Linked DNA regions of Homo sapiens: region 2 is linked to region 1. Evidence: fine-mapped expression QTL. A gene starts in region 1. The other region holds a variant in brackets. All regions are shown on one strand. Distances are between the middles of the regions.

Region 1 (10,609 bases):
GCCTAATTACCTCAACTTTACATCTACACCCTTATACTTCCCCTACTTAAAAACCCATCCACATGACAGAATTTCACTTGTAGATCTCTCCTGGAAGGGCTGACATGTACAATAGTTCAAGTTGTTCACTGAATAAGAGCATCCAGGTGAAGGGACAAGTAACAGCTGAGATTTTAGATTAAAAATGGTACACATTCCTTCTCATGATTGTTAATGAGCAGTAAGGTCTATGTTCCCTTGTCTTAAATCTTGGCAGACTCTGAAGCTGTTTGAGCAGTAGAATATAGTAGAAGTGATTCTGTTCTAGCTTACTGGCTTAGACATGAAGAGACTGGCAACTTTGACTTCTTCTTGCTTAGAAACACTTGCTTTTTTTTTAAGAAGTCTTGCACTGTCGCTTGGGCTGGAGTGCAGTGGTGCGATCTCGGCTCACTGCTGCAACCTCTGCCTCCCAGGTTTAAGCGATTCTCCTGCCTCAGCCTTCCAAGTAGCTGGGACTACAGGCACCCCCCACCACGCCCAGCTAATTTTCTGTATTTTTAGTAGAGACGGGGTTTCACCATGTTGTTCAGGCCGGTCTCGAACTCCTGACCTCAAGTGATCCTCCTGCCTCGGTCTCCCAAAGCGCTGAGATTACAGGCGTGAGCCACTGAGCCCGGCCAACACTTGCTCTTATAACCCAGCCACCACCATAGGAGGAAGGCCAACACCGAGAGGAACTGAAACCCCAGGAAAGTCTTAGCTGAGCTCCCAGCCAAGAGCCAGCACCAACTGGCCAGTCTGGTACATGTACCTAAGTCAATATGCTGCAGCCCACACTGTGTGGACAAGACATGAGCAAGCCCTGCCTAGTCCCTCCCAATCCCAAATTTTGGAACAAATTAATTGAGTAAAAAATTTACCCCAATACGTTCTGTGTAACATTCAAACTCTTTACCATGCCATTTTTAGTCCTTACCAACCTAACTCTGCCTACCTTTTCATACTTCTCTCCTACTACTCCTTAATCAAATCTCCCTCTCTAGCTAGATTTGATGATTTCCTGAACACACTTTGAGTAATTCTGCCTCCCAAACATACACTGTACCTTCTACCTGAGCAGCTCTCTTCTGTCTCTGCCCACCCTCTCAGATCATGAGCCACCTTCTTTTCAAAATCTTCCTAACTATTCTACTTCATTTCTCTCTAAGTCTGTGGCTCTTTTGCTCTGTCTCATTTGGTACTTATTTATAGCTTGGGTCCATTAATCATTTTCTTCTTGATATTCTTTATTAAAATAACATGTAATTTAGCGCTACTCCAAATCTCATTCAAACTGTTTGCCATAATCAAGTGTGGAAATTGAAGGTAATCATTTAGAAACTTTTGTAGCAATTTGATAGAGTAATTTTATGCACATTGAACCTTATCATAAAATAATTAGCCTTGTCTTTGCCATATCATTTTCTAGTAATTAGTATTTTTTTAAAAAAGACTTTTTTCAGAACAGTTTTAGGTTTACAGAAAATTGAGCAAAACATACAGAAACTTCTTATATAATCCCTGCCCTTCCCCATTCCCTGCAACCTCTAGTATTAACATCACACACCAAACTGGTACATTTGCTGTAATTGTTGACACATCATATTACCCAAAATCCATTGTTTACATCAGAGTTCACTCCTGGTATTATACCACAAGGGAGTTTGACTAATAATTGATTTTTAATTGCATTTTACAAAAGTATCAGTTATGACTGATTAGAAATAAAAAGCAAAACTGGTCTAACAGAGTTTGAGAAGTACTGTTAACAATGAAACCTACTTGAGGCACTAGACTATAGCACAAAGTTTCTCAACCTCAGCACTATTAACATTTTAGATGGATCATTCTTTGTTGTGGAGACTGTGGTGTGTATTGTAGGATGTTTAGCAGCATGCTTGGGTCTACGTAGACCGTCAGATGCTAGAATACTTCCAACCCCTGAGTAGAGCCAATCAAAATTGTTTCCAGACATTGCCAAATGTCTCCTGGGTCAAAATCAACCCAGGTTGAGAACACTACCATAATGGTTAAGAGCAGTCCTGCAACGAGGGTAAATTGTTCAAGCTCCAAATCTAGCCCTGCCACTTAATTAACTGTATATCTTTGGGCCAGTAAATTAACTCATTTTCCCCATTAGTAAAACGATTAATAAAAGTACTAACATTAAAGGCTTTTGTAAAGCAAAAATGATGTAACAAAGAATATATAAACCACCTAGAACGGTATTTGAGACATAGTAAGAATCCAATAAACAAAAGACATTGTTTCTATCACTTCTGGGCTACTCACAGTGCATATAAAAATGAATAGGTATTTTGTCCCATTCTTAGATCCAAGGGAAACCACAGCTTAGTGATAGTGCACAGGTAGAGACAGATATGAAAATAATTACTATGTGTATTTATAAATGTTATAAAGAGGCAAGTGAGCGAATGACTGTCTTAAACTGGTTTGTGCTATGGGTAAGAATGTACAGGCATAACTCTTTTTATTGTGTTTCACTTTATTGAGCCTCGCAGACACTGTATTTTGTTGTTGTTGTCTTACAAACTAAAGGTTTGTGGCAAGCCTGCACTGAACAACTATATTGATGCCATTTTTCCAACAGATTGTGCTCACTCTTCACATTTCTGTGTCATATTTTGATAACTCTCACAATATTTCAAACCTTTTCATTATTATATCTGTTATGGTGATTGATGTTACTCTGTAATTGTTTTAGGGCACCATGAACCATGCCAATATCAGACAGAGAACTTAATAGGTAAATGTTGCGTTGTGTTTTGACTGCTCCACCAACTGGCTGTTCCCTGCCTCTCTCCCTCTCCTTAGGCCTCCCTATTCCCTGAGACACAATGATATTGAAATTAGGCCATTTAATAACCCTACAATGGCCTCTAAGTGTTCAAGTGAAAGCAAAAATCACACCTCTCTCACTTTAAATTAAAAGCTAGAAATGTTTAAGCAAGGTGAGGTAGGCATGTCAAAAGCCAAGATAGGCTGGAAACTACACCAGTTAGCCAAGCTGTGAATGCAAAGGAAAAGTTCTTGAAGGAAATTTAAAGTGCTATTCCAGTGAAGACATGAATGATAAGAAAGCAAAAACAGCCTTATTACTGATAGGGAGAAAGTTTGAGTGGTCCGGGATTGAAGATCAAACTAGCCACAACACGCCCTTAAACCAAAGACGAATTCATGGCAAGGTCTTAACTCACTTCAATTCTATGAAAGCTGAGAGAGGTGAGAAAGCTGTAGCAAAAGAGCCTGAAGCTAGCAGAGCTTGGTTCCTGAGGTTTAAGGAAGTAAGCTATCTGCATAACATGAAAGTACAAAGTGAAGCAGCAAGTGCTGATGCAGAAGCTGCAGCAAGTTATCCAGTTCTAGGTAAGATAATTGATGAAGGGGCTACACTAAACAACAGATTTTCAATGAAGACAAAACAGCCTTCTATTGGAAGATGCTATCTAGGACTTTCATATCTAGAAAGAAGTCATTGCCTGGCTTCAAAGCTTCAAAAGACAGGCTGACTCTCTTGTAGGGGCTAATATGGGTGGTGACTTGAAGCCAATGCTCATTGACCATTCTGAAATATCCTAGGGCTCTTATTCTTTTAAATCTACTCTGTCTGTGCTCTGGAAATGGAAGAACAAAGCATGAGTGACAGCACATCTGTTTACAGCACGGTTTACTGAGTATTTTAAGCCCATCTTTGAGACCTACAGCTCACAAAAAGATTCCTTTCAAAATAATACTGCTCAATGACCACGTACTTGGTCACCCAAGAGCTCTGATAGAGATGTACAAGGAGATTAATGCTGTTTTCATGTCTGCTAACACAACATCCATTCTGCAGCCCATGAATCAAAGAATAATTTTGACTTTCAAGTTATATTATTTAAGAAATACATTTTGTAAAGCTATAGCTGCCCTAGACAGTGATTCCTCTGATGGATCTGGGCAAAATAAATTGAAAACTTCTGGAAATGATTCACCATCCCAAATGCTAGTAAGAACATTCATGATTCACGGGAGGAGGTCAAAATATCAACATTAACAGGAGTCTGGAAAAAGTTGATTCCAACCCTCATGGATGACTTTGTAAAGGTCATGACTTTGTTCAAGACTTCAGTGGAGGAAGTGATGAAAGATCTGGTGGCAATAGCAAGAGAAATAGTGGAGCCTGAAGATGTACCTGAATTGCTGCAATCTCATGATAAAACTAGTGGAAAAGAAGTTGCTTCTTATGAATGAGCGAAGTTCTTGAGATGGAATCTACCCCTGGTGAAGATGCTGTGAATATTCTTGAAATATCAACAAAGAATTCAGAATATCACAAAACCTTAGTTGCTAAAGCAATGGTAGGGGTTAAGAGGATTTACTCTAATTTTGAAAGAAGTTCTACAGTGGGTAAAATGCTTTCAAACAGCATCACATGCTACAGAGAAATCTTTAGTGAATGGAAGAGTCAACTGCTGTACAAAATTCATTATTTTGTTATTTTAAGAAACTGCCACAGCAACTCCAATCTTCAGCAACCATCACCCTGATTGGTCAACAGCCATCAACATCAAGCAAGACCCTCCACCAGCAAAAAGATTAGGACTTGCTGAAGGCTGAGATGATTAGTAGCATTTTTTAGCAATAAAATATTTTAAAATTACAGCATGTAATTTTTTTTTACACATAATGCTATTGCACACTTAATAGGTTACAATACAGTGTAAATACAACTGTTATATGCACTGGGAAACCAAAAAAATCGTGTGACAGGCTTTATTGGTCTGGAACCGACCCCGCAATATCTCGGAAGTATGTTTGTACATTATTCATAGAAAAAGTATTATTCTAATAACATTTTGAAATATTTAGCCAAAAAGTAGAAAAATGAAGCATCCAAGGGAAAACAGTAAAACTCGGACGGCAGGAAAGCTCGGAAAAAACACAAAAAACCTGGCGTGTTCAGGGACAGGATAATCCAGCGAGGCTTTTAATGTGTATAGGAGAAGTGAAAAGAAATAAGGCTGGTACAGTAGTTTGCCGCCAGACTATATGCTTTAGGAGAGAGGGAGGCATTCTAGGTTGTCTTGTTTTTCTTACCAGCTTGTTGATACTCATGGGACTCAATTACCTCAATTTAGACCTCTATGTGGGCACAAGAGTGAGTAGGACTCCTGGAGAAACACAGACACTAATGTCCAAGGCTGCACTTGACTTCACTAGTGCCCGCGGGAGAAATTTAGCAATGAGGATGAGCCATGAGGATGATTCGGGAGAAATAGGAAGTATTCATGGCTTTGCTCCCTCCCCCCTAATCAAACATCTCAATCTCAGGATCCTAAGGGCAGATCTTTTAGGACATCGGGCATTTCCCCGTAAGCAATCCCCCCTCGCTATCCTCAAATGCAAACTGCGGAGTCTGCCACAAACGCGTTGGCTTTAAAACTCATCCCTGAACTTTAGATCCACCCAGCCGGTTAAGGATATCACGACTCACCACTGATTCTTCTTGCACCCTTCTGAGAGCCGCGCTTAGAGTAATTCGCGCCCAAACATTCGTAAACAGAGGAGACCCGGAAGTGGGTGGGAAGAAAGCGGAAACGGGCATCTAACCCTACCCCTAAACGTCATCAGGAATGCGCCCATGAGAGCGCTATTAGATTGGCTGGAGGGAGGGCGGTGTCGGCCTACGCCCCCAGAGTCGTCCGGCTGACGCTGGCGGTGGCGCGGTTTGTGTGGGCTTGGTGAGGGCGGGGAGGCCTGGCTGTGTGGATGTCTGACAGGTGAGGCGGGGGACGCAGAAGTGCAGCCGCCCTCTCCCACAGCGGAGTCCAAAACAGGCCTACCAGTGAGTAGGACGTACACCTTTCAGATCGCTCCATTCTTCTGGCTCCTGTCCCTCCTCTACCCCTGTATTTTGAACTTTTGTCCTTTCTCTCCCGCTCTGTCCTTTACTTCTGTCTTCTTTACCTTCCTACTGTGACGGGATCCCACTCTCTGCCTTCTCCTTAGGTTTAGATTTTCACTTCGACCAACCTCTAGTTTTGGGCGAAGTCCCTGGCAATTCGGAGGTACTTCTGGAAAGAAGGTGCTTTTAATACTTTAGGGGCCATGTCGGTATCTTCTTTGGCCACTTAAGCACCCTGAACTGTTCCCGTTGGCAGAGGTCACTTTTTGTATGGTTCCAAAGGGATGCGCCTGCTTCATGGCTGCCTCCCTTCTAGGTTGTGGGTTATGTTATTGTCAGGGTTTTTCTAAGAGTTTTCGGGAATAAAAGTGATTTTCTGTGTGTAAACAGGATTAAGAGTGTAAACAGTGTTAAGAGTGAGAGGTAGAATAGAAAAGACAGGTCTAAATTGACATAAAAGCTTACATTACTAACTCGTTCTCAGTTTTATCTAGAAAGAAGGTGGTCTTAGGGAAGCTCGAAGCCCTGGATAACGTATGTGTGTAAAGTTTTAAACCACTTGATGATTTTCTGCCAATATAATTTTGTGTTTAATGATGTACTTATGCTAATATCAAATATAATTTTCATGCCCTATGTTTCCATCTCCAAACCCAACTAGTTGAACATCAAAGTACCTTCTTGAAGTATTAATGTGCAATCATACGTCAGCAGCCAAAGCTTGAAACTTATTGGTTCAAGAAATCTTTTTCTCACTGATTTGTTTTTGAGGTGTGGGGGTGGGATTAATCATTGCTCTTTAACTCATTTTAGTTGTCAGTAACATATTTGCTTTGCATGTTGCTTCTTTGAATGCTTGAGGCCTCTCTTGATGGTCTTCTGAGAAAATTCAGAGGTCGTATTGCCATCCGCAGTAGTTGTGTTTTTATCTAAAAATGGTGTCTGTTTCCAGCCTCCACCAATTCACATGTGATTTTCAGGAAGTCACTTAAACGGGGCTCTTTCCTATTAGTTGTTCAGATTTAGGAAAGCCCACGTGAAATGAGTGTGATATTTCCTGCCAACAGTTTAGTCTCAGGTGGTTTTCAAATTACCTTTTACAGGATTACTATTGAAACAGTTTAGTTGTTGCTTCATTATTTTTTTCATCCACCTTTTAAGCTAGTAAATGTAGTGGATGGCTTGCAAAAAGATGGATGACAAGGACCCCATGGATTTAAAGAATAAAAATCGTGCTAGTATTAAAAAAATGGAAGGTTTTTTTGTTTTGTTTTGAGACGGGGTCTCTCTCTGTTGCCCAGGTTGGAGTGCAGTGGCACGATCTCTGCTCACTGCAACCTCTGCTTCCCGGGTTGAAGTGATTCTCATGCCTCAGCCTCCTGAGTACCTGGGATTACTGGTGTGCGCCACCATGCCCAGCTAATTTTTGTATTTTTAGTAGAGACTGGGTTTCACCGTGTTGGCCAGGCTGGTCTTGAACCCCTGACCTCAGGTGATCCACCTGCCTCGGCCTCCTGAAGTGCTGGGATTCCAGGCGTGAACCACCATGCCCAGCCTTTTTTGTTATGTTTCCATTTAGACTTTGTTCTATGTACTTTTTACATAGTTGAACCTGTTGCACTTACAATTACGTGTCTTGAGTCTTTTACTTACTACTTTTTGAGTTTGTTTCTCTTTTTTTGGGAAACTATGCATAACACATTTTTAACTTTTTACTTATACATATATTTACAGAAACTGCATAAAACATAACTGTATAATTTGATGAATTTCCACAAACAGAATATATCTATGTAAGTGGCAATCAGATCAAGACCATTACCCCCAAAAGCCCCTCTCTTGCTCCTGTTGTATTCTAGCAACCATTAAGTAACCATTCTTCTGACTTCTGACATCAAAGATTAGTTTTGCCAGCTTTCTAAACATATTTTGATAACTACATGAAATTCTATCATTTGTATATGCTGTAATTCACTTATTCATATGTTATGAGATACTTACGATTTTCCTAAGTTTTCTCTATTACAAATAAAACTATAGGAAACATCTATTTTATATATTACTACAGAAGCTTTCCCAGGAGTAATGTTCCTCAGTGGAATGGCATAAACATTTCTGAAGCATTTCATGTATATTGACAATTTACTTTCCAAAGTAGTTAAAATAGTTAATACTGTCACCAGTGGTTTATGTCTCTTGTTTAACGACCCCATAATAAGTGTTGAGTATTGATTTCATTTAAGCTTTACTAAACTGATAGGTAAGAAGTGGTATGGAAAATAAAATTTGAAACTCCCTTTACTTGTTGCCTTATCCAGTATAAAACACATAGTATAGTGAATATATTAATGTTTGCATCTCAATATCTTTTTAAACAATGGGCTCTATATGTTTACGCTGTATGACTCTGACAAGTTTTAGTAATTCAGGTAAACAGTTTACGGCTTTGTGAGGTGGGATTTTGATCAAGCGACTTTATTTCTCTGAGCCTCAGTTTCTACATCTGGAAAATGATGACGCTGAACCCAGCAACCTAGTATAAAAGTCTATGCTAGTTATCCGGAATATGCAGCTCTAATGTTGGAGCAGTTTATAAACTAGCACAGAAGTAGATTATTGAAGAGGCCATTTAGCTCACCTTATGGGTTCTGGGATGAATTGTGTGCATATTAGTTAAATGCAAGGACTTTGAAACAGGCTGCATAGGTTCCAATCAATGCTGGCTCTTCTGTGCCTCAGTTTCCTAATCTGTAAAATAAGGATAATAATAGTACCTACCTCTTAGGGGTATTGTAAAGATTAAAATTGCTACTCTCTGTGATGTCTTTATAGCCTTCTATGTTACTGGCACATAGAAACGCTGCAAATTGGAGATAATGCCTTAGCTGAATTAGCCAGAGAAGAACATTTTAGGCAGAAGGAAGAGCAAGAGCAAATTCAGAAAACTTTGACATATGTGCAGCCAACTGTAGGTAATCCAGTATTTCTAGTGCACAAAATGCATAAAGAGGACAAAGACAGAGATGGGTCTGAGGGGGAAACAGAGACCAGTTCATGAAGGCCTTGAATGCCTGTTTGTCTTATTCATCACTTTTTTCTCTATTACCCAACATAATGTCGGTCATAAACTGATATTTAATAAAAGCACTTTGAATGAAAAAATTAATTAGGAGGCTGTAGTATATCTTCCACATGATACAGAGTCTTTGAAAAATTCCATGAGGAGTGTGACATAGTCATATTTACATTGATGTCATTGTATGGAAGGGATTCGTATAGAATGGAGTAGAAAAGGAGTAAGACTGGTCAGTAAGACCAGCTAAGAGGCTACTGAGGAAAAAGACTGAAACTACAGGACTGATAGTAATTGTGAAGAAGAGGGGCCAAAGTTATAAAATATCAGGTGCAGGAAGCAGAAAAGGGGAAGAAATGAAATCAGACTAATACATCCTCTTTCTTTTCTGTTCCTTTCTTATGAGTAGCTCCTATTTCCCACCCCCTCTTCTAAATGTTTTTACTCTATGTTTCTTTTTCTAGGTCAGTTCTTATTTCTATTGGGTGTTTCCATGCTCCACCATGTTAAGAGCTAAGAATCAGCTTTTTTTACTTTCACCTCATTACCTGAGGCAGGTAAAAGAATCATCAGGCTCCAGGCTCATACAGCAACGACTTCTACACCAGCAACAGCCCCTTCACCCAGAATGGGCTGCCCTGGCTAAAAAGCAGCTGAAAGGCAAAAACCCAGAAGACCTAATATGGCACACCCCGGAAGGGATCTCTATAAAACCCTTGTATTCCAAGAGAGATACTATGGACTTACCTGAAGAACTTCCAGGAGTGAAGCCATTCACACGTGGACCATATCCTACCATGTATACCTTTAGGCCCTGGACCATCCGCCAGTATGCTGGTTTTAGTACTGTGGAAGAAAGCAATAAGTTCTATAAGGACAACATTAAGGGTGAGATTTTAATGTAAGACATAATATTTATGATAAGTCATATGCCTCCTAGTTTTTTATTTTTTGGGGGTTAATCTCTGTAAAGATGATATTCACTCTATAATTTTGTAGTTAAAGACTATACTCTGAAAAAAGTGGATTTTTTTAACTTCTGTGGTCAAAAAGATAAGTGAATTAGAATAAGGTGCTAAATTTTTGAAAGAAAACAACACATGCACGTTGTTTAAAAGGAATTAGGTGAGGTAAAGTTGCATGAAGAAAAGAAGACATTAGCTTTGCCTTCGAAAAATGTTCAATTAACATTGTTGGGATAGCGATTGGAGAGGAAGATAGTTTAGATGATGCCCAAAGAAAGTGTAAATGTGATAACGTGGTACAAACATATTCAGTGCAACCTGGCATTCATTCACTGAAAATTATCTTAACTATTATTTCTTCTTTCTGAGCTGTAATAAAATTGTACTGTTTGAATACTAAACTTGTAGATTTATAAGTTTGTATTGCCCATGGAAGGTTGAACTTACATTTAGTATAGACTATTTTAGTTATTTAAAAATTTTGTACGATGGTCATAATTCTGTTTTCCAGAATATTTGAATAGCCAGGAATCCTTTGTGACCATATTAGATAAAAGAACAAAATAGTAAGCAAGCATACAAATGCTAAGTTATTTTTGCCATATATGAACAGCCAGATCTTTTCATGAATTTTAGAAATAT
Region 2 (10,358 bases), 89 kb after region 1:
TTTTTTCCCGTCTGTTGGCCAGGCTGGTCCCGAACTCCTGGCATCAAGCGATCTGCTGGCCTCAGACTCCCAAAGTGTTGGGATTACAGGCATGAATCACCACACCCAGCCCCACTTTTCATATAAATTTAATAATTAATTTAAATATTTCTACTAGAAATCCTTCAGGAATTTTGATTTTGAACTTTTATATGTGTTTTTTATTATTGTTATTTTTTGCTTTATTGAATTGGCTAAGACCTCCAGCAATTCATTGAATGAAAAGTGTTGAAAGTGGACATCCTTGTCTTATTTTTGATCCTAGAGGTATTTCAAAATTTTTGCAGAGAGTCTAATGTTAGCTGTACGTTATTTGTAGACTTTTTCTTTAAAAAAATAGAGACAGGTTCACCCTTTTTCACCCAGGTTGGAGTGCAGTGGTGTGATCAATGCTTGACCTCCTTGCCTCAAGTGATTATATTGTCTCAGCCTCTCAAGGGATTCTCCTGCCTCAGCTTCTCAAGTAGCTAGGACTACAGGTGCCTGGTATCACACCTGACCTAAACTTTTCTAAAAAATCAGATTAAGGGCCAGGCATGGAGGCTCACACCTGTAATCCTGGCACGATGGGAGGCCAAGGCAAGTGGACGGCTTGAGGCCAAGAGTTTGAGACCAATCAGGTCAACATGGTGAAAACCCATCTGTGCTAAAAATACAAAAATTAGCCAGGTGAGGTGGAGCACACCTCCAATCCCAGCATACTTGGGAGGCTGAGACATGAGAATCGCTTGCACCCAGAAGACAGAGGTTGTGGTGAGCTGAACTTGCGCCACTGCACTCTAGCCTGGGCAACAGAGCAAGACTGTCTCAATTAAAAGAAAAAAATTAAAAGAAAAAATCAGATTAAGGAAGTCTTATTGTGTTCCTAGTTTGAAAGTTCTCTGTAAAAATTATGAATGGATTTTAAATTTAATAAAAAATTTTTCACATCTATTTATATATACTATTTTAATCTTTATTCTGTTAATATGGGAATTTGCGTGGTTGATTTTTAAATACTAAACCAACTCTACTTTCTTATAAGTAACCCTATCTGGTCATGATTGAACATTGTTCGAGTTTACTGCTAATATTTATTATGAGACATTAGTATTCATTTTCTCTTCTTGTAATGCTCTTTCCAGTGTTTGGTATAAGGAATATTCTGGCTTAAAAAATTAGTTTGGAAGTATTTTATTCTCCTCTATTTTTTGTAAGTACTTGTTTAGTATTGAAATTATTTTTTCTTAAAGAAGATATTTTCTTTCATATTGGAAGACATCTTTCTAAACTTTGCAGCTGTGTTGACTTTCACTTCTACATGATTTCTTTTTTCTTCTTCTCCTTTTTTTCTTTTGAGATGCCATCTTACTCTGTCACCCAGGCTGGAGTGCAGTGGCGTGATCTTGGCCCACTGCAACCTACGCCTCCTAGGTTCAAGTGATTCTCCTGCCTCAGCCTCCCAAGTAGCTGGGATTACAGGCACACGCCACCATGCCCGGCTAATTTTTGTATTTTTAGTAGAGATGGGGTTTCACTATGTTGGCCAGGCTGGTCTCAAACTCCTGACCTCAGGTGATCCACCCACCTTGGCCTCCCAAAGTGGTGGGATTACAGGTGTGAGCCACTGCTACTGGCCACTACTACGTGATTTCTAACAACCTGTTTGGATTCAATATTCTTCTTGCACAACTATCTGTCCTTTAGGAATAATGTGACAGTAAGAGTGAAAGTGCAAAAATATAGTCAGTTGTTTCATATCATTCACTAAAAGTAATTGTTCTCATGCATGCATTTGGGAGCAGTCATCTTAAGAAAAGTTTACTACAGTCAAATGTGTCTGAAAGACATTGTTCATTATATCTCTTTCTCAGAAGGCAGAACACATGTAGTACATTAGAGACGTCACAAGGTCCTGAAGAAATGAATTTAACTTTGTATAACCCAAAGGTTTCCAATATATTTCTCCTAGAATTCTTTTTACTTGCACAATACATTTTAAAATCACTCAGAAACGAATGCTCCATGTACAGCAGTTTGAAAAAGCATGGACTAGAAAGTACTGAGACTGAAATTCATTAAGCTAGAAAAGAGTTTAATAAAATAGCTTCTCCCAAATCATTTCAGGGCTGCTCCATTTCAGCAACATTTCTAATCTTTAGCTATATTCCTTGGTGATGTTTTACAGTATGATGTCCAAATTGCATGCATTTTAAATTTCCATAAAGTGAATCTTAGTCATTTTCCTTGTAGAAAATTAACAGACTAAAATTAATTGTTCATCAATCCGGAGTCTTCCTCCCACTCCTTCTCTCCTCAATGAAAGAAGAAGGAGCTGGAAATGGCATGTTTCTTAACTGATTATCTCAACTTTAATCATCCTCTGCACTGGAAGGTCTGATGCCCACAAGATACTTTCACTGTTTTCAGTTATGAAGAATGGTCATTTGTATAATTTTGCTGGAGAAAAATTGCTTCTATATACAAAACCCAAGGAAGAATATTGCATCTGTAATATCTAAATACATAAGTAACCTCTTTTTGTCCTAGAATCTTAAAAATTGGCCTTTTTTGATTTCCAACTTTTAATTTCAGGGGCACATGTGCAGGATGTGCAGGTTTGTTACATAGGTAAACATGTGCCATTGTGATTAGCTGCACAGATCATCTCATCACCTAGGTATAAAGCCCAGCATCCATTAGCTATTCTTCTTAATGCTCCACCCTTCCACAGGCCCCAGTGCGTGTTGCTCCCCTCAATGTATCCATGTGTTCTCATTATTCATCTCCCACTTATAAGTGAGAAGATGTGGTATTTGGTTTTCTGTTCCTGAGTTAGTTTGCTGAGGAAAATGGGTTCCAGCTCCATCCATGTCCCTGCAAAGGGCATGATCTTGTTCCTTTTTATGGCTGCATAGTATTCCATAGTGTATATGTACTACATTTAATTTATCCAGTCTAACATTGACAGGCTGGATAAAGCCACAATTTGCAATTTTTTGATAAGAGTTTTCTCCTCAATTCCTTCCTAATTTTACAAATTTATAAAAATGAGTTCTAGCATAGATTTTTAAAATTCACAATCTGTTTGAAATTACCAAATACATTTATCAACTTTCAATCAAGGTGAACAGATTATTCTAATGAATTTTTTTTCTCTAAGTCTCTGCACATTTTTCTCTCTGAGGAAGAACAATTATGTCAGGCTTCTGACAAGCTTATGACTGACAATTGATTAATATTATTTTTAGTGTGTTTCCAATGCTGGTCTATGATGTGTTCTGTCATAGAAACTTTACTTTTCTATATCTTCAGATCTTTTTTCCACAATCAAGAATAGATACTTTGGGATTTTATTTATTGCACACCTAGTAAACTGGCTAATCTGGTATCTTCATAGGTTACGCATATCTAATTTAAGGGATAGTACTTGTTTCTTTCATGCAATGAAGACTGCAAGAATATTATATATTTTTAAAATTCTTGTATGTTTTTAATTGATGAAAAATGTCTAATTAATTATGTATAGATTGCAAACTGAATTACTGTAAACTCCTTAAGGGTGTCAACTGTATAACCTTAGCAGTCAAGCAGAATGCTGGGCACATTTAAATGGCTCAACAAAAGTGTCAACAGATGATAAAGGAAGGATGATTTTCTGAAAAAAATATTACCAGTATTGCAACCTTGTGCCATATCATGCATCACTGGGCATTAAGAGACAAATGAGAAAGCTGGGATTGAAATATTAAAGAGATATTAAGAATTGACATCATTGTCCAAGCAAGAGAGTATATTCAAGTGGAAGTAGGATATTAGGCAAGAATTATATTTAGTAATCGCAAATATAATTCAAGATAGCAAGGGCTACAGCCAACAAGCAAGGCAGTCAGATTGACATTTCTTTAGCCATTTTTCTTAATTTCCAGACAAATATAAATCCATCCTTTTTGATCATGGTTGGAACTCACTGTTTTTTTAAATTGCATGAAGTTGTGGTATCCTACAATTTTATAACAGTCTTTGTTTCTAATACACCACTTTCAAGCTTTCAATGATTTGCAAATGAAGAGACTACATATATTTCTTTTGACAGTGTCTGAAGTGTTGGTATAATGCTTAACAGGAGTCCCTCATCAAGTGACTATTTTACATAATTGAATTATCTAACTAGAATCAGAGGTGAAAAGCTATGACACAGTGAAATGTGAAATTATTTTGCAGATCATAAACAGCTTTGCAAGTATGCAATACCATCATTATGAGTTCAGCAATCTGTCAAAGAAAATATTAATACTGGCAAAGAATTTACCTACAGGGTAACAGAAAATGAATACTTCTTATTGATCATGTTTCTAGCAAATTATTAAAACAGCATAATTCAGAGCATCAGGCACAAACTAATTTTGTGAATAAAGGCCCTTAGGCCACATCCTCTCTATTAAGGAAAGCTGGCCAACATTCCAGATGTACGGTTAGTTTTTAATGGGAGGGTGGTGTGAGTAAGTGGGGGATCCTGTCTCAAAGAAGTCAAGTGACATTACCCGACACTCATGCATTGACCTTCCATGAGTGGCATGGTATTGTATTTATTATAAAATGGCAGCAGGTTTTCTGAGATTAAGTAGAAAAATTGGTAAGTATTTAACTACTATCTAGTGACACAACTCTTTAAAAACATCAAATAGAGAACTGAGGCCAGAAAAATAGCAATAAAAAGTCAGTTTGAAAATTTTAAAAAAATCTTCAAATAAACAGCATGAAAAGAAGGAAACTGGGAAAATAAAATCTGAGATATACTGAGTAAAATACCTTTGGATTGAGTAGAGCTATTAGCGGGAAAAAAATAAGGCAAGAATTTGAATGAAGCTCATAAGAACTGAAATGCTTGGTTTTAAAAGTTGAAAAAAGAGGCCTTTTAAAATATTCTTAGGTAGCTGATTATGAATTAAAGAGGAAACATCACATTGAATCTAAGACTTTCTCTTTATAAAGGGAATGAAAGCTTAGCAGATTAATATTAATGAACAAACTGAATGAATGAATAAATGAATGAATGCCTACTCTCTATACACAGGTGTAATTTTAATTAGCTGTAAGAGTTAACTTGTCAAGGCCTGTGAGATTGTAAACTAGTTGAAATTGTTAGGCTTCCTCTCCATCCTTTTTTTCAAGGCCTATTTTTCCCTTATCCATTGTATGTGACTTTTAAAAAAAAACAGACTTATCCTGAACTTTCAAAAATGCAACTAAATAATAAACTCACTCA[T/C]GATTTCTTCATTCAATAAATATATTTTGAGTATCTATCATGACCTGACACTGTTTCAGGTGTCTGTAATTTAACAGTGAGAAAAACAGATAGGATATCTGACCTCATGGAGCTCATAGCTTAGTCTAGGAATTGTATATAAAATAAATAATTTCCTAAATGAATATATAAGTATATAATTATAAACCATCATGTGTACTGTATTAGTCAGAGTTCTCCAGAAGGACAGAATTAATGGAATAAAAGAGTTTCTTAGGTATTTAATGAGTTTATTAAGTATTAACTCACACGATCACAAGTTCCCACAATAGGCCTGCTGCAGGCTGAGGAGCAAGGAGAGCCAGTCCAAGTTCCAAAACTGAAGAACTTGGAGTCTGATGTTCAAGGGTAGGAAGCATCCAGCATGGGAAAAAGATGTAGGCTGGGAGGCTTTCACATTTTCTGCCTGCTTTATAATCGCTGGCAGTTGATTAGATGGTGCCCATCCAGATTAAGTGTAGGTCTGCCTTCCCCAGCCCACTGACTCAAATGTTAATCTCCTTTGGCAGCACCCTCACAGACACACCCAGGATTAATAGTTTGCATCCTTCAGTCTCATCAATTTGACACTCAGTATTAACCATCACATGTGCTATGGAACAATATGATTTCTGTGAGAACATATGACTGGGTTGGTTAGGGAAGACTTTCATAAGAATATAGTATCTGAGAGAGAGCTGAAGAATTAGCAGATAATAACTATTTGGGGAAACAGGCATTCATAATAATTTATGGAGAGTGTTTTAGGCCAAGGGCACAAAGAGTAGGGCCTAAGAAGCATGTTAAAATACTTGCTTATTAATGAATTATATTGTATTTTCTCAAGGATTGTTTTTATTTTAATGGAGAACTTTTCCCCTTCTTTGACTGTATTATAAGTGATCTAACAAATTTTTCTCATTATAATTCAAGCAGCTTAGAATTATACATGTTAAAAATATATAATAAAATGCATAATTATATACATTATTTTATAATTGTGAGTGGAAAATCGTTATCTCAATTTCCTAAAAATACTTATTATTGCATTGTTATGCATTAAGACATAAATTTCATACATGTGCACACACACTTTATTTTCTCTAAAATGGTTTCATACTATATGCAGCAATTTGCAACTTGCTTTTTTACTTAACAGTATGACTTGAACACTTTCCCTGCCAGTATGTATAGTCATTATTCATCTATTTTATGTACACATGTCATTCATATACATATGATATGTGAATATATAAATTCATAAATGTTAATACGTATGATACATGAATTCATATATAGTATATATGTGATGTGTGAGATATTGTTACATATATACTGACTATATCATGATTTCTATAACCACTGTTGTATAAATGCACATCTAGATTGTTTACAAGGTTTTTTTATTTTGGGTGATGCAGCCAAACATATTCTTGCACACAAAAGTTTTTGGATCTGTATGAGTAATTTTTTAGAAAAAAGTTTCTGGAATTAGAATTACAGCTTCAAAGTACAAATTTTAAAAATTTGACAGCTATTATAACCAAATTCTATTCCTTTACAAGAAGACTTTTTATTAGCTAAAATGTACAAGGATAGCTTGTACATTTTCTGCACACTTGACAAACTAAATATAATTATCTTTAAACTTTTAACAGAGGGCTCTGAAATCGGAAGCATCTTCTGTACAAAATTGACTGCTTTTATAATTCAGTAGGTAGTATCATTGTTTGGATCAGGATATACAAAAAATAAAAAGTGGTAGGTATTGTGCCAAAGTAGAGAGGGCTTGCCTAGTATGGAGACATTCAAATTCGAATCCAAATACCACCACAGCCAAATGCAATATAGACCTGGGCTGGAGTCCATCAGCTGGAACTCACAGAAGTAAAGAGTCTCAAGAAGAAGATAACTGGTCCCAATTGTTCATTGTCCTTAAATCATTACAATTGGCTGTCCATCCAACATCTCATATACAGAAGGTGGGCTTTGTCTCTGAATCAGGCTGCTACACCCACAAATATGAAAATTCCTTGTTAAGAATTGCGAGGTTGGAATTTCACTTGCTGACATCTTAGAATGTGGTAAATTTTTTCTTACTCCTAGAGCAGTCAATCAACATAATAGAGGAAAAATAATACATATTTAAAGGGATCTATTATGCTTCAATTAAATTGCATGTTCAATAATGAAACAAATGGCCAGGTGCGGTAGCTCACACCTGTAATCCCAGCACTTTGGGAGGCCAAGGAGGGCGGATCACTAGGTCAGGAGTTAGAGACCAGCCTGGCCAACATGGTGAAACCCTGTCTCTACTAAAAGAATACAAAAATTAGCTGGGCAGGGTGGTGTGCCCCTGTAATCCTAGCTACTTGGGAGCCTGAGGCAGGAGAATTGCTTGAACCCAGGAGGCCGAGGTTGCAGTGAGCAGAGATTGCACCACTGCACTCTGGCCTGGGCGACAGAGCAAGACTCGGTCTCAAAAATAAAATGAAATAAAAGAAACAAACACTTTAATAATACTTACTCTGTATAATGCTTTGTACAGATCCAGCATATTAACTAAGAAAATGGATTAATTACCTTTCCAGTAAAATTCCATGAAACTGATGAGTTTTTAAAAATTCTATTCCTTTTTGTTTTGTAGAAACATAATATAATGTTTCAAATGACGGTGTTCTGTCTTATGAATTGATTGAATTCAATTCATTCAAAACATTGAAAAGTAGGACTGTTTTGTAGATTATTTGAAAAAAATTACTTTCAATGCATGAATGTTTTCCCAGCCTAGAACATTCCCTCTCTATTGTTCCCAAACCTAGTCCAAACTACATCATTGACATATTTGAAAGCCATAAGTATGAGGAACAGCTGGACAAGTTACTGATCTCAATGAATACATTTTCCTGCTTTGCACCCCAATTCTTTCCCTGTTGAGGAGCCTTAAAAATTTTCTTAGCCAGAGGAAGTAAGAGATAAAATTTAATTTTCTCCATCTCAGCATATCTACTTTAATGAGCTCCCCAGGCTTCTTTCTAGATTTGCCTAGATAACTGGATAATAACAAGATTAAAAAAATTTTACCTGTGGATAAAATCATAAAATTGGTAAAATTGGATGGGAGAGTCACCTGTAGGGGCAGTGTTAACTTCAAAGTCAGTGGGTGGGTCTGTGTTGCCAATTCATCTCAGCCATTTGTGGATGACTTCTGGTCAACTAATAAAAACTGGTTTGTTGTGTGCATTAGATGAGATAGAATGTGTACGGCACCCAGCACTGGGCCAGCACATAGCTATTAATAAATGTTACTGGATAGGAAAAGATTAAAACAATTTTTTTTGTTTCTTTCTTTCTCTTCCCTGTGGATAACCACAGTGGTTCTGACTCCCTATGCAACTGCTCCATTTTCCCTCTCCACTTTCTATGCAGCCTTTTGAAAGAATGGACTTCTCAGTGGGAACTGGTCTTCTGTGAAAGATTCATGAGGACTGCATTCAAAACAACTTTATACCCATGCTTTCAATCTGACACATTGTTTCACTTGACAAATCTCTCCTTTTACCACTCATATTGTTTGATATGGATCATCATTATCATCATCTTCTGCAAGTTTGGAGAATCTCCTAACCTCTCTCCTATCCCCTCCAACCAACTAAAAAGCAGCTTCTGGCAGGCTAAAAAGTCAGGTGATCATGTCCATATTAAAATGGTGGTTATCTGTTTGACAGACCTATGGAGCTCAACATGCACAGCAGTATTCCAGTGTAAAGTGGAAATGGTGCATATGTGATTAGATCTGAGCAAATCCAGAAGGTAGAAAAATAAAAGCAGATGACTCAAACTGTCATGGTATTACTTTCTACTGCTTCATTGCTTCTCCCTCCACTCGTATCTTTGAAGTAGGACTAGTTTTTATCTGTAACTGTATTGTATATTAGCAGAGTTGATCCAGGAAGTAGTGAGGAAATCCTTTAAATAGCGCTTTAGATTGTGCCTTTGGTCATTTACTTCAAGTGGGCAGAAGGCCTGAGATACAAATCTACAGATTTAAGAACAGAGGCTAATATATTGCTCAAATGGTCAAGAATATGGAAAGAACAAATATTGTAAACTTTACAAGGGATGAGGGGTATATAGTAAGGGTATAGAGAGTGTGATGAGATCTATATCCCATACAAATGTTTATCAGAGGTCTACAACTGACTAGAGGGGTCTCCAAGGCACTCTTTCCAGATTTTCCTTCAGGTTTGGGGCCTCATTCCCCCAACTACTGGTCATGTTGGCCACCACTGATAAATCATGGCTGTTTCCTTCTCTTAGAATTACCCTGAATGATAAGAACTGACTCACTCAAGGATGGCTTCCCTGTCCAGGGGCAGACCACATTCAATTACTAGTAAATGTAGAGGTAAAGCCCCACCCCTCACCTTAATGTAATTTCACTTTGAAAGCCCCCAAATAAAGAGCTCCCTGTGGAATCAACTGAGGCTTCTGCTTAAATTGTACTGTTTTTTCCTTTTAGAGTTACCAAAGCAGGCTGGGTATGGTGGCTCATGCCTGTAATCCCATCACCTTTGGAGGTCAATGCAGGCAGATCACTTAAGGCCAGGAGTTCAAGACCAGCCTGGCCAACATGGTGAAGCCCCATCTCTACTAAAATACAAAAATTAGCCAGCTGTGGTGGCACGCACCTGTAATCCCAGCTACTTGGGAGGCTGAGGTAGGATCGCTTGAGCCCAGGAGGTGGAAGTTGCAGTGAGCTGAGATTGTGCCACTGCACTCCAGCCTGGGCAACAGAGCCAGACCCTATCTCAAAAAAAATTATCAAAACAAAACTCCCACAGATAAGAATAACTCTTAAATATTCCCTAAGAGTTTCATTTCTTTGTTTGTATTATTCCATTTCAAGTTAACAAATAACAAGTATATTTGATAATTTGATTGATTATGGACAGATGTGTCTCAAATTTGAGTAAGGCTGATCTAATGGCTCAAAAGACATGTGGCTACCTATAAATGAATAGCCTTTTATTTATGAATTGTAACATAATTT

Evidence for each region. PIP is the estimated chance that this variant, and not a neighbour inherited with it, causes the effect.
Region 2: its variant is fine-mapped to the expression of MMUT in whole blood (INTERVAL, PIP above 0.99).

What each region holds. Positions count from the first base shown.
Region 1 is chr6:49,458,363-49,468,971 of GRCh38, reverse strand. It overlaps MMUT (methylmalonyl-CoA mutase), which reads left to right and starts at 5,719. Exons shown (of 13, transcript NM_000255.4): 1 at 5,719-5,869; 2 at 9,467-9,890. The coding sequence starts at 9,506. CENPQ (centromere protein Q) reads right to left here and starts at 5,602. Exons shown (of 9, transcript NM_018132.4): 1 at 5,519-5,602. RefSeq lists enhancers at 4,736-5,635, 5,980-6,049, 5,636-6,536.
Region 2 is chr6:49,369,447-49,379,804 of GRCh38, reverse strand. No RefSeq gene overlaps it. Among named protein-coding and RNA genes, the nearest start is that of MMUT, 89 kb to the left of the region's middle. The variant T/C (reference allele first, on the strand shown) is at 5,288.